Regions from separate parts of the Homo sapiens genome. Here region 1 is linked to region 2. Evidence: fine-mapped expression QTL. Tissue or cell type: whole blood. Region 2 holds a variant in brackets; the other region holds the start of a gene. All regions are shown on one strand. Distances are from middle to middle.

Region 1 (5,000 bases), 40 kb before region 2:
GCGCTTAACTGGACTTTAGTTTTTGCCCCAATCTTACAGACTTTGGATGGGAAATTCAGCCCATTCACCGTGTTACGAAGGCGGGTAGCCATGGCTTTATTTATTTTATCTCATCTTATGTTTACTATTATTAAGCTTATTGTTCTTGCTATTATTTACTTTCCCCCTTAATTTTGCTTCCTTACTCTCCCTCCACCCCTCCCCCAACTTCTACCTAGTAATTCAGGAGTTCTACTCTGCTTCTTTCCCGTGAGTTGCTACTTTCCAATTCCTGAGAGTCATAATTCAACCAATCTTTCCCTGATAATGTATTAAAAGTAAATGGTAATGAAGCCCCCTCCCCACCACCAATAAGGCTTTCCTTCCCCAGCTGAGAGTCATAATTAAACCAATCTTTCCCTGCTAATGTATTAAAAGTAAATGGTAATGAAGCACCCCTCCCAACCACCAATAAGGCTTTCCTTCCCCACTCACCAAATCAGATCCTTTTACTTCCTCCTTCTCCCCTCAACCAAATGTGATCTTAAAATATTCTGACTTCTCTGTGATAAGATTCTATTTTTTTTTTTAGTTCCAGGCTAATACAACTTTCTCTTGAAGCATGTAGCTTATGTTTTAAGAATCCTTATGTGGCACTGCTAGTACAAAATCACAGGCACATGTGGATTATCCATACTGTATATTTTGCAAGGGTCATTGCTTAACACCACTTCCTGTTCTGAGCGTTTGCTCTATCTTGAAATCTCTACTGTGATTGAACTGTCTCGGTGACGGGGGAACTCTGAATATCTTCCTCTGAAAGGGGACATCACTGAGGTCCTTTCTCTGTCTTGCCACAGTGGATATTTTCTCTCTTTTGTCCACATAGATGAATCCTGTAGTAGCCATGGTAAGGATCCTTGATCCTATCATCAGAGTCCCTGGACATTGCTCCAAAGTCCCCTAGGAACCACTTCAACTTTTCTCCCCTTAGATGTGACCTGTTCTTTCTGGAACTCTGCAAGACCGTCTCTTTATCCTTGGCATCTGGGATTTCCAGGGACACGTTCTCCTGGCACTTTGCTCACCTCTGTTTCCCCTCCAGCTCTTCCTGGAGTACCTGTCCTTTGTGCAATACACCTCCTGGAACTGTCTTTCCAGTCTCTGCTTTTTGTCCTGATGATTTTCATGTGCTTTTCCTCTACATCATGAAGCATTTACTCCACATTATCTTCCAGTTTGCTCATTTGTCCTCACCTCCACTCTTCTCTTTCTGAATTTGCCTGTTGCTTTTTCAGTCTCTTAGCTCCGTGGAGTATGTTCAGTGTTGCTGTGTTCTGATAGAGGCTCCTTAAGCCATCTTGTAGATTTTTTGTTGCACTTCCTCTCTTCCCTTAGACCTCCACAGGAGGAACTTTTCAATCTGTCCTCTTCTCTCTGCTTAATGAGCCCCTGCAAAGGGTTTGGGAAGTGCTTCAGCCTCTCTGTGATTGTGTGTTCACATTAATATTTATTATTTTCTTAAATGTGCATAAATCTCACAATGTGAACAGTGATCATCTTTGAGTGATTTTTTTTCTCCTTTCTACTTTTAGTAATTCTCCAAATTTTCTACAGTTAGTGTGTGATAAGGTGGAAAGACATCTTCAAGACTTTGGGCAAATAACTATGTCTGAGCCTCAATTTTCACATCAATAAAAAATGGGCTCAGTGCCACCTCCCTCCTTGGGTCACTAGGGGGGCCCTTGAAAGCTGTGAAAGCCCCTAAGCCAACCTGGACAGAGCAGGCGAGGCTGACGGCAGGTGTTCTTCCTTCCTCTGTGAGCCTCACAGGGTCACACGTGAACATTGGGGATCGGGGGTGGGCAGTGGGGGCAGCTGGAGAATCAAATGAGGTGACTGACATGAACTACGCCGCTTTGACAAAAGTCCTCCGAAGTAGTGTGTTCAGAACTCATCTCCAAAGCCATCTGGAATATTTGCTCCCAACATGTTGGTAAGCATTATCTCTGACAGTCACTCCGAGCCCCAGTTTCTGCTGTGATAACTAGGACAGGTAGCTCAGGTTGGTTGTGGGGACCAGAGACAGAGCAGGCAGGGTCTCACGTTCCCCAGGGCCTCTCAAGGATAGACCCTCGCCCTCATCTCCAAACCACGCCTCCCAGACAGGAACCAAACTCCCAGAGTCTCCAAACTGCCTGAGCCTTGCCCACTCCCTGGGCTAACACACACTTTAAAGGAATCCCACAGTCACCGTGTGAAAAGCTTGCTACACTGCATTTGATTCTGGGCACTGAAAGCAGTACTTGGCTGCAGACACTCGTTTCAAACAGGCCCCATTTTTCCATCTCTGCTGCTGTTATTAGGGGAGCCCTTAGACTCTCTTGCAGCGCCGGAATAGGCGCTCAAGACGTGTGTTAATATTGCAACAGCAAATATAATGAATCTGCAGTTGGGGACGCTGAGGCCGGAGTGGTGGATGAAAGGTGGCCGGAGCCTTTTCCACGGGTCCAAACCACCTGTTACAGGAGAAGGCGAGCGGCCTCGCTAAGCAACTGGACGTTCCGCGGGCGGGGCGGGGGCGGGGCCGGGGCCCGAGTCCGCTCGGAAACTTTCGCTGTGGGCGAGCCGGACCCGCCTTCTGGCCCCTCGGGCCCAACCACGCAGGGGGAGTGCCGGGCCGCAGCTAGGCGAGGCGCACCGTGATTGGCGGAGATGTGGAGTGATTGGCGGCTACACCGGCCACTCAGCAGGCCGAGCTGGCGCCGCATCCGGGGGGCCGCGTCTGGAGTGGAGGGAGGCCGAAGGCCCCGCCCCTGCCCCGCCCCCTCGTGCAGAAGGCCGCGCTAGCCGGCTCTTCAGCAGCGAGTGCAGATTGCTCCCCCGCGGCCGCAGATCTCCCGTTTGCGCCGCGTTCAGCTGCTCCCGAACAACTTTTCTGCCGGCCCAGAGGCCCCAGGGCGTCGCAGCGCCGCGTGCGGCCCACTCACGGGCCGGTGAGTACTTCGGCGCTGGGGCAGTGGCGCGGTGGCTGTGGGCAGCGCGCAGGAGGCGGGCAAGAGCCCTGAGGCACTGTCCTCTTCGGGCCTCAGTTTCCCCTTCCGAGCTGATGGGTGGCTGGCCCCAAAGTCCCGACAAGGTCCCCGAAGTTGGAGGGCCGGGGGTCCCGCCCGCTCTGCAACGCGCAAGGCGACCCCTGTTCCGGGCCCGAACGGGTCACCCGGGGGGCGCGCCCCGGTCCCCCGCGCGCTGTCGCCTGGAGCCCCGCCGCGGGCGGGACAGCAGGCCCGAGAGGCGGAGCGGCCGGCGGGCAGGCCCCCTCCCCGCGCCCCGCGCCATCCCCCCCGAGTTGCCCCGTCATGCCCCTCCCCCGCGGTCCCGGGACCCACGGCCGCCCTCGGTGCCCGCCCGGCCGTTGGAACGCGCCTGGGCCCCCGGGAGGTGTTGTGGGGGGGAAGGGGGGTTCAGTCCCCCAGGGGGACCCGGCCCGCCCGAGGGGCAGCTTAGGGGTCATTCTGAATCCCCACAGCCCACTTAGGAGCGCTGTGGCAGTTCCTCTCTCTCTCGGGGCCCCTCAGTAGAGAGTTGAGGGGTTTCAGTGGCAGCACCTGGACCCTGCCTCGTATGAACTCCACCCTCTGGATCATTAGCTTTTTGTTTGATCAACGAAAACTTTCTGGAGAATCCTACCCAGCCCTTTTGGATGTGATGGCGCCCTGGCCTCTCACCCACTTAGCAGATGATGTTATGAATTCCAAGGAAGTCGCATTTGTGCAACCCCCCACCACCCAGATTTAACCCTCTCAGTAGCCTTAGGCGGAGAAGTTATAGTCCCCGTTTGACACCCCAGGAAGCTGAGGCTCAGCAGGGTTTGGTGCCAGCCCAGGACCACGAAGCTGATGGGGCAGAGCCTGGTGTGAGGCCTCTGCCCTATCTCTCCAGAAGCAGCCCCGTCTCTCCTCACCTTGGACAGTGACCCCTGGCATTTGGCCCAGGGCTTTGCAGTTTGTAAAGGGCTTTCTCTTATGCCAGCATCCATCACTCAAGGAGCTGTGCCCTGGGTACCCCATGTGCTGGCTGCCTGTTCTCTGCAGCAGGAGAGGGAGCCCACGGGAAGCCCAGAGGCCACCTTTGTCACTGTCGCCACCTGTTTACTTCTGTGTCCAAGGGTCTGTGATTCCCATGGGGTCTCCGTTGTATCCAACCAGGGATTTGGAGGGAGGCTTCTCCACATTTCAGCCTCTTTTCCCTACCTGCTGGTTTGTCCTCCCTTCGCAGACACAGGAAAAGTTGGCTGGGAGACCCCATCTCACCTTCTTTCCCAGGATGGAAGAGCATGGAGGGCGTCTCTGACTTAGGCCTCCCCTGCCCATCCCGGACCAGTGCTGGACAGGCTTCTGGGGCTGGTCACAGAGGGGACCTCAGCTCAGTCTCAACCCCCAGAGATGTCTGCACTGCCAGACAGACCCGAAACACCCATCCTTGACGGTGGCAATAAGAATCATAATAGGTCGGGAGCTTTATGCCTACACGGCTCCCCTCCCCTCCCACTTCCCTACTTCCGGAAGTGGTACCACCACAGCCAGCCAGCCCCAGCCACAAACCAGACCACCCCCTGTGCCCTTCATTCCTCACTCCCAGTTGGGTCTCTCCTGGCTCCTGAGCCTCACTCGGATGCCTGCCCTGGTTCAGGACCCTCGCCTCTCCCTGGACGACCCCCAGGCTCCTCCCTGGTCCCGATCCGGGCCTGGCTGCACGCAGCCCTGCTGGTTCTTCAGCTGCCACTTCCCTCTGGGCTATCGGGTCAGGTCCGCCTCCCGAGCCAGGAGCCGGCATTCTTTCGGGCCCTCAGGGACCCGCCTCGCTGCTCACTCAGCCTCTCCCTCCTGTGTCCTCTCTCCAGCAGTCACCTCCCAGCCACCTGCGTGTTCCTGGCCACAAGCCTGGCTCACTGTCCCTCTGCTGCCTCCTCTTCTGGGCACAACCCCTGCTGGAATGCCCAGCCACCTCCCAGCTTGCCT
Region 2 (5,310 bases):
GGTAAAGATAAAGGTGCTTTGTTGTTTTTCTAAAAAGGACTTCGCTGTTGCTTGAGTCACTCATAACTTGATCAATTATTTGGAGCTCTAAAAGCTTCCCAGTTGCTAGGAAACCACACCTTGGAGGCTGGCAAACCATTGTTAAAGTTGTTCCTAAAGTGCTGAACTTCTACAGTGACTTTGGAAAGTAGCTTGGGGAACAAAACAAAGCAAACAAAACAGAAAAGACTCGGGTTCCCTTTTCTTTCCGTCCAGAAGTGATCAAATCAGCTAAACTCACTGTTTCAAGCTTTCCTCTAACTAGATGTGTTTTTTTCTGCCGTTAGCCAGAAAGGCCCTTTCCTTCCTATTTTAGTCACAGAATAACCTGTCTCTTTAGGACAGTGGGGTCCTGTGCTGAATCCCACCCCCAAAGATGGGAAGAACTCGGGTGCTGCGTTTTGGGAAGCCCCGGCTGAGATGAGTGTATAACTGGGGCTGAGAGCCGAGAGCCTGGCCCAGCAAGCCAGGCAGTGAGGTGACCCGGTATCCCGCTCCCCATTTCTGCTGGAGCTGGAAGAGCCCCAAGGACACCAGCCCCATCAGAGGGAGCTGGGCCCAGAGCTGGGTGGGGCAGCCGACTACTCCCTGCAGAACACCTACCGCCTGCCTGACACTGGTGGCTGCTTTGTGGACATGCTTTTGAAAACCTCGTGAGGGTGATGTTATTGTCCCCACTTTATCCAGGGGTACCTGGGCACGGAGCAGGGCGGTAACTCACCTTGGATGTCTGTGGCAGCCTCCAAGATGGTCCCAGCAATCCCCACCACCTTCCTGCTGCTCCTTCCATGTAGCAGGATAGGTCTGTGCGACCAGTAGAATATGGCAGATGTGACGAGATGTCACTTCTGAGGTTTGCTTACAAAAGGCTGTGGCTTTCAGTTTGGCTGCTCTCTCTCGGATCCATCACTCTGGGTGAGGAAGCCATGCCGCGAGCAGCCCCGTGGGGAAGCCTGCACCTCAAGGACCTGGAGCCTCAAGCCAACTGCCACATGGTGCACTTGGAAACAGGGATGGCTGCCACGGCCCACACTCGCCTGCGGCTCCGGGGAGACACCCAGCCAGAACCTCCTGGTGAATCCACTCCTGGATTCCCTACCCCCACAGAGTATAAGATGACGAATGTGGCTTTAGGCTGTTAAATTCGGGATAACCGATACAGTGCCAACACTGGTAAGTGACGAGGCTGCAATGAATCCCAGGTATCCTGTGGCTGCATCTCCACCTGCATGGGCCATCCTGTACCTGGCAGGCCCCATCCTTAGCCTCTTTAAAAGTCCAGGAACCTTGGAATGTTTTTCTGACATCTCCTAGGCTGCTGGATTTACCAGGAAAAGGGACGGACCCACACCTTTTCCCTGTTTGAATCCATTGCATTTCTTCCAGGTGTTTCAATCCCTTCTGACTCGATTTGCTTTAATGAAGCTTGAGGCAAGTGCAATTTTCTGCCCATGGGGCTGTAACACTGTTCAAAGTCATCCTGGAGCTAAGCTAAGTGGAAAAAACCATATGGCATTGTCGCCTTCTCAGCCTGACCTGGCATGCACTCTCACCCTCATCTGTCATGCCTCCTGCTTTTCCACCTGGGGGGCTGAGAAGTCCGGCCATCGAAACCTTGGTTCCTGCCAGCCACGGGAGTTTGGAAGCTTTATCAGATTCCTGAAGCCTCGTTTCCTCATGGGAACAGTGCAGGTGAAAGCACCTTCCTCTCGGAACCGGGGGGAAGATGAGAGGAAATTAAATAGATGTATGGCCCCGCAGCAGGACTGGCGCTCTCCATTGTGTCTGAAATTGGCAGGTTCTTGGTCTCACTTACTTCAAGAATGAAACCACGGACCCTCGCGGTGACTGTTACAGTTCTTAAAGGCGGCGTGTCTGGAGTTTGTTCCTTCTGATATTCAGATGTGTTCCGCGTTTTCCTCCTTCTGGTGGGTTCCTCCTCTCGCTGGTTCAGGAGTGAAGCTGCAGACCTTCACGGCGAGTGTCACAGCTCATAAACGCAGTACAGACCCAAAGAGTGAGCAGCAATTAGATCTATCACAAAGAACAAAAGAACAAAGCCTCCACACCACAGAAGACAACCCGAGGGTGTCAACATTACTGGCTCCAGCAGCCTGCTTTTATTCCCTTATCTGGCCCCACCCACATCTTGCTGATTGGTCCATTTTGCAGAGAGCTGATTGGTCTGTTTTACAGAGAGCTGATTGGTCCGTTTTGCAGGGTGCTGATTGGTGCGTTTACAATCCCTGAGCTAGACACAAAAGTTCTCCAAGTCCCCACTAGATTAGCTAGACACAGAGCACTGATTGGTGCCTTTACAAACCTTGAGCCAGACACAGAGTGCTGATTGGTGTATTTACAGTCCCTTAGCTAGACACAAAGGTTCTCCAAATCCCCACTAGACTCAGGAGCCCAGCTGGCTTCACCTAGTGGATCCCCCAACCGGGCTGCAGGTGGAGCTGCCCGCCAGTCCCGCGCCCTGCGCCCTCACTCCTCAGCCCTTGGGCGGTCGATGGGACCCGGCGTGCCGCGGAGCAGGGGGCGGCGCTTGTCGGGGAGGCTGGGCCGCGCAGGAGCCCACGGCCAGGGGGAGGCTCGGGCATGGTGGGCTGCAGGTCCCCAGCCCTGCCCTACGGGGAGGCAGCTGACGCCCGGCGAGAATTCGAGCGCAGTGCTGGCACTGCTGGGGGACCCGGCGAACCCTCCACAGCTGCTGGCCCGGGTGCTAAGCCCCTCACCGCCCGTGGCGGGCGGCGCCGACCGGCTT[T/C]TCCGAGAGCGAGGCCAGCTGAGCCCCCGCCCACCCGGAACTCTCGCTGGCCCGCAAGCGCAGCGCGCAGCCCCGTTCCCGCCCGCGCCTCTCCCTGCACACCTCCCCACAAGCCGAGGGATCCGGCTCCGGCCTCGGCCAGCCCAGAGGGATCCGGCTCCGGCCTCGGCCAGCCCAGAGAGGGGGCTCCCACGGTGCAGCGGCGGGCTGAAGGGCCCCTGAAGCGCGGCCAGAGGGGGCGCCGAGAGCGAGCGGGGCTGCCAGTACGCTGTCACCTCTCACCATCACTGCCCTTGCTTGCTCTACGGCTGCTCAGACCCAAGGGGCAAGTTTCTCCAGGTATTTCCAAACCAGGGAGGGCTTTGTGTTTAGTTTAAGTCAAGGAGGCTGTCCCCTTTTCGAGGCTGTTTGGATTTCTTTCAGCAAAAACTAGCAGAAGTTATTACGCAGGAACTTTTTGTAGCATATAAAGAATGAATCCCGATAGGTACTGTGATGGTTACCGTTAGGTGTCAACTTGATTGGATTGAGAGATGCCTAGAAAGCTAGTGAAGCATTGTTTCTGGGTGTGTCTGTGGGGGTGTTGCCAGAGGAGACTGAAATTTGAGTCAGTGGACTGGGAGAGGAAGACCTCTCCTCCATGTGGGTGGGCACCATCCAATCCGCTGCCAGCGCGCCTCCAACTAAGCAGGCAGAAGAAGGTGGGAGAAGCTGGCTTGCTGAGTCTTCCACCTTCATCTTCCTCACATGCTGGATGCTTCCTTCCACTCCTCCTGCCCTTGGACATCAGACTACAGGTTCTTCGGCCTTTGGACTCTGGGACTTACACCAGTGGTTTGCCGAAATCTGTGCTTTCTGCCACAGATTGAAGGCTGCACTCTTGGCTTCCCTACTTTTGAGGCTTTTGGACTCGGGCTGAGCCACTACTGGCTTCCTTCTTCCCTAGCTTGCAGACAGCCTATCAGGAAACTTTGCTTTGTGATCATGTGAGTCAATTCTCCCTGATAAACCCCCTTTCATAGACACATAGATCCTATAACTTCTGTCACTCCGGAGAACCCTAATATAGTTACCAATAGAAACCTTACAACTTTCCCTAGATTCTGCAGGCTGGGTGGAGTTCACCACCCTTTGCTTTGAGGTATCAGTGGAGGAAGAACAGAGGCACTGGGGTCAGGACAGAATGGGGCCAGACCCCAGCTCCAGAACCTATGACCGCATAGGTTTGAGAGACCTGCGTTCCAGCCTGGCCTCTGCCTTTACTGTGTGGCCCTGGGCAGGTTCCCTAACCTCTGAAGCTCAAGTTCCTTACCTCTAGAACAGGAGCAATAATAGGACCTGCCTCATGGGTTTATGTAGAATACGATAGAGTGCAAAGTGTGCGACACAAGGCCCAGCACACAGTAGGTGTCAATCAGTGGTCACACTTGTCACTATCCTATAGGATGGGCCTTGGGCACACCTCCTAACTTTTCCAGCCTCAGTTGGCTCCTCTGTGAGATCAGGATTATAAAGATCTGCTTTTCAGGGTGGCTATGATTTGTTGAGAAATGAAGTATCTATCACACCATCATTTACACAATCATTCATTCATGGAGCCATTCATTCCTTCAATCATTTATTCAATCATTCATGAATTTATGGATTTAGTCCATCATCCATTCATTCTCCAGTTCTCAAGGCTCCTGTGCTGGGCATGGTCAAGACACGCTCCCTTCCAATGGGCAGATAGGTAAGCGGGGGCCTGAGGAAGTGCAGGGACTGTCATCAGCAAACCCTGCTCCAGAGTGGAGACAGAGCAGAGCATGTTCCACCCAGGAACCCCTTGGTTTGGAGGCATCTCCATCTCCTGCCAGCCCAGCTCAGGTTCTGCCAGTCCCTGAACCCTTCTCACACTCTCCACCCCACCCATCAGGAGTCATATGGCAGGGCTGTCGAGGCGTGTGAACCAGAGCAACTCCATCTTGAATAGGAGATGGGTAAAATGAGGCTGAAACCTACTGGGCTGCATTCCCAGACAGTTAAGGCATCTAAGTTACAGGGTGAGATAGGAGGTTGACACAAAATACAAGCCATACAGACCTTGCTGATAAAACAGTTTGCAGTAAAGAAGCCGGCCAAAATCCACCAAAACCAAGATGGCCATGAGAGTGACCTCTGGTCGTCTTTGCTGCCACACTCCCACCACCGCCATGACAGTTTACAAATGCCATGGCAATGTCAGGAAGTTACCCTATATGGTCTAGAAAGGGGAGGCATGAATAATCCGCCCCTTGTTTAGCATATCATCAGAAATAACCATAAAAATGGGCAACCAGCAGCCCTCGGGCTGCTCTGTCCATGGAGTAGCCATTCTTGTATTCCTTTACTTTCCTAATAAACTTGCTTTCACTTTTCTCCATGGACTTGCCCTGAATTCTTTCTTCCACGAGATCCAAGAGCCCTCTCTTGGGGTCTGGATTGGGACCCCTTTCCGGCAACATCTTTGCTTCCTTTCTCTTTAA

What was found. PIP is the estimated chance that this variant, and not a neighbour inherited with it, causes the effect.
Region 1: it holds the start of WFS1, and the variant in region 2 is fine-mapped to the expression of WFS1 in whole blood (INTERVAL, PIP above 0.99).

Annotation. Positions count from the first base shown.
Region 1 is chr4:6,267,040-6,272,039 of GRCh38, forward strand. WFS1 (wolframin ER transmembrane glycoprotein) reads left to right here and starts at 2,811. Exons shown (of 8, transcript NM_006005.3): 1 at 2,811-2,975. RefSeq lists a silencer at 2,789-2,898.
Region 2 is chr4:6,306,507-6,311,816 of GRCh38, forward strand. No RefSeq gene overlaps it. Among named protein-coding and RNA genes, the nearest start is that of WFS1, 39 kb to the left of the region's middle. The variant T/C (reference allele first, on the strand shown) is at 2,807.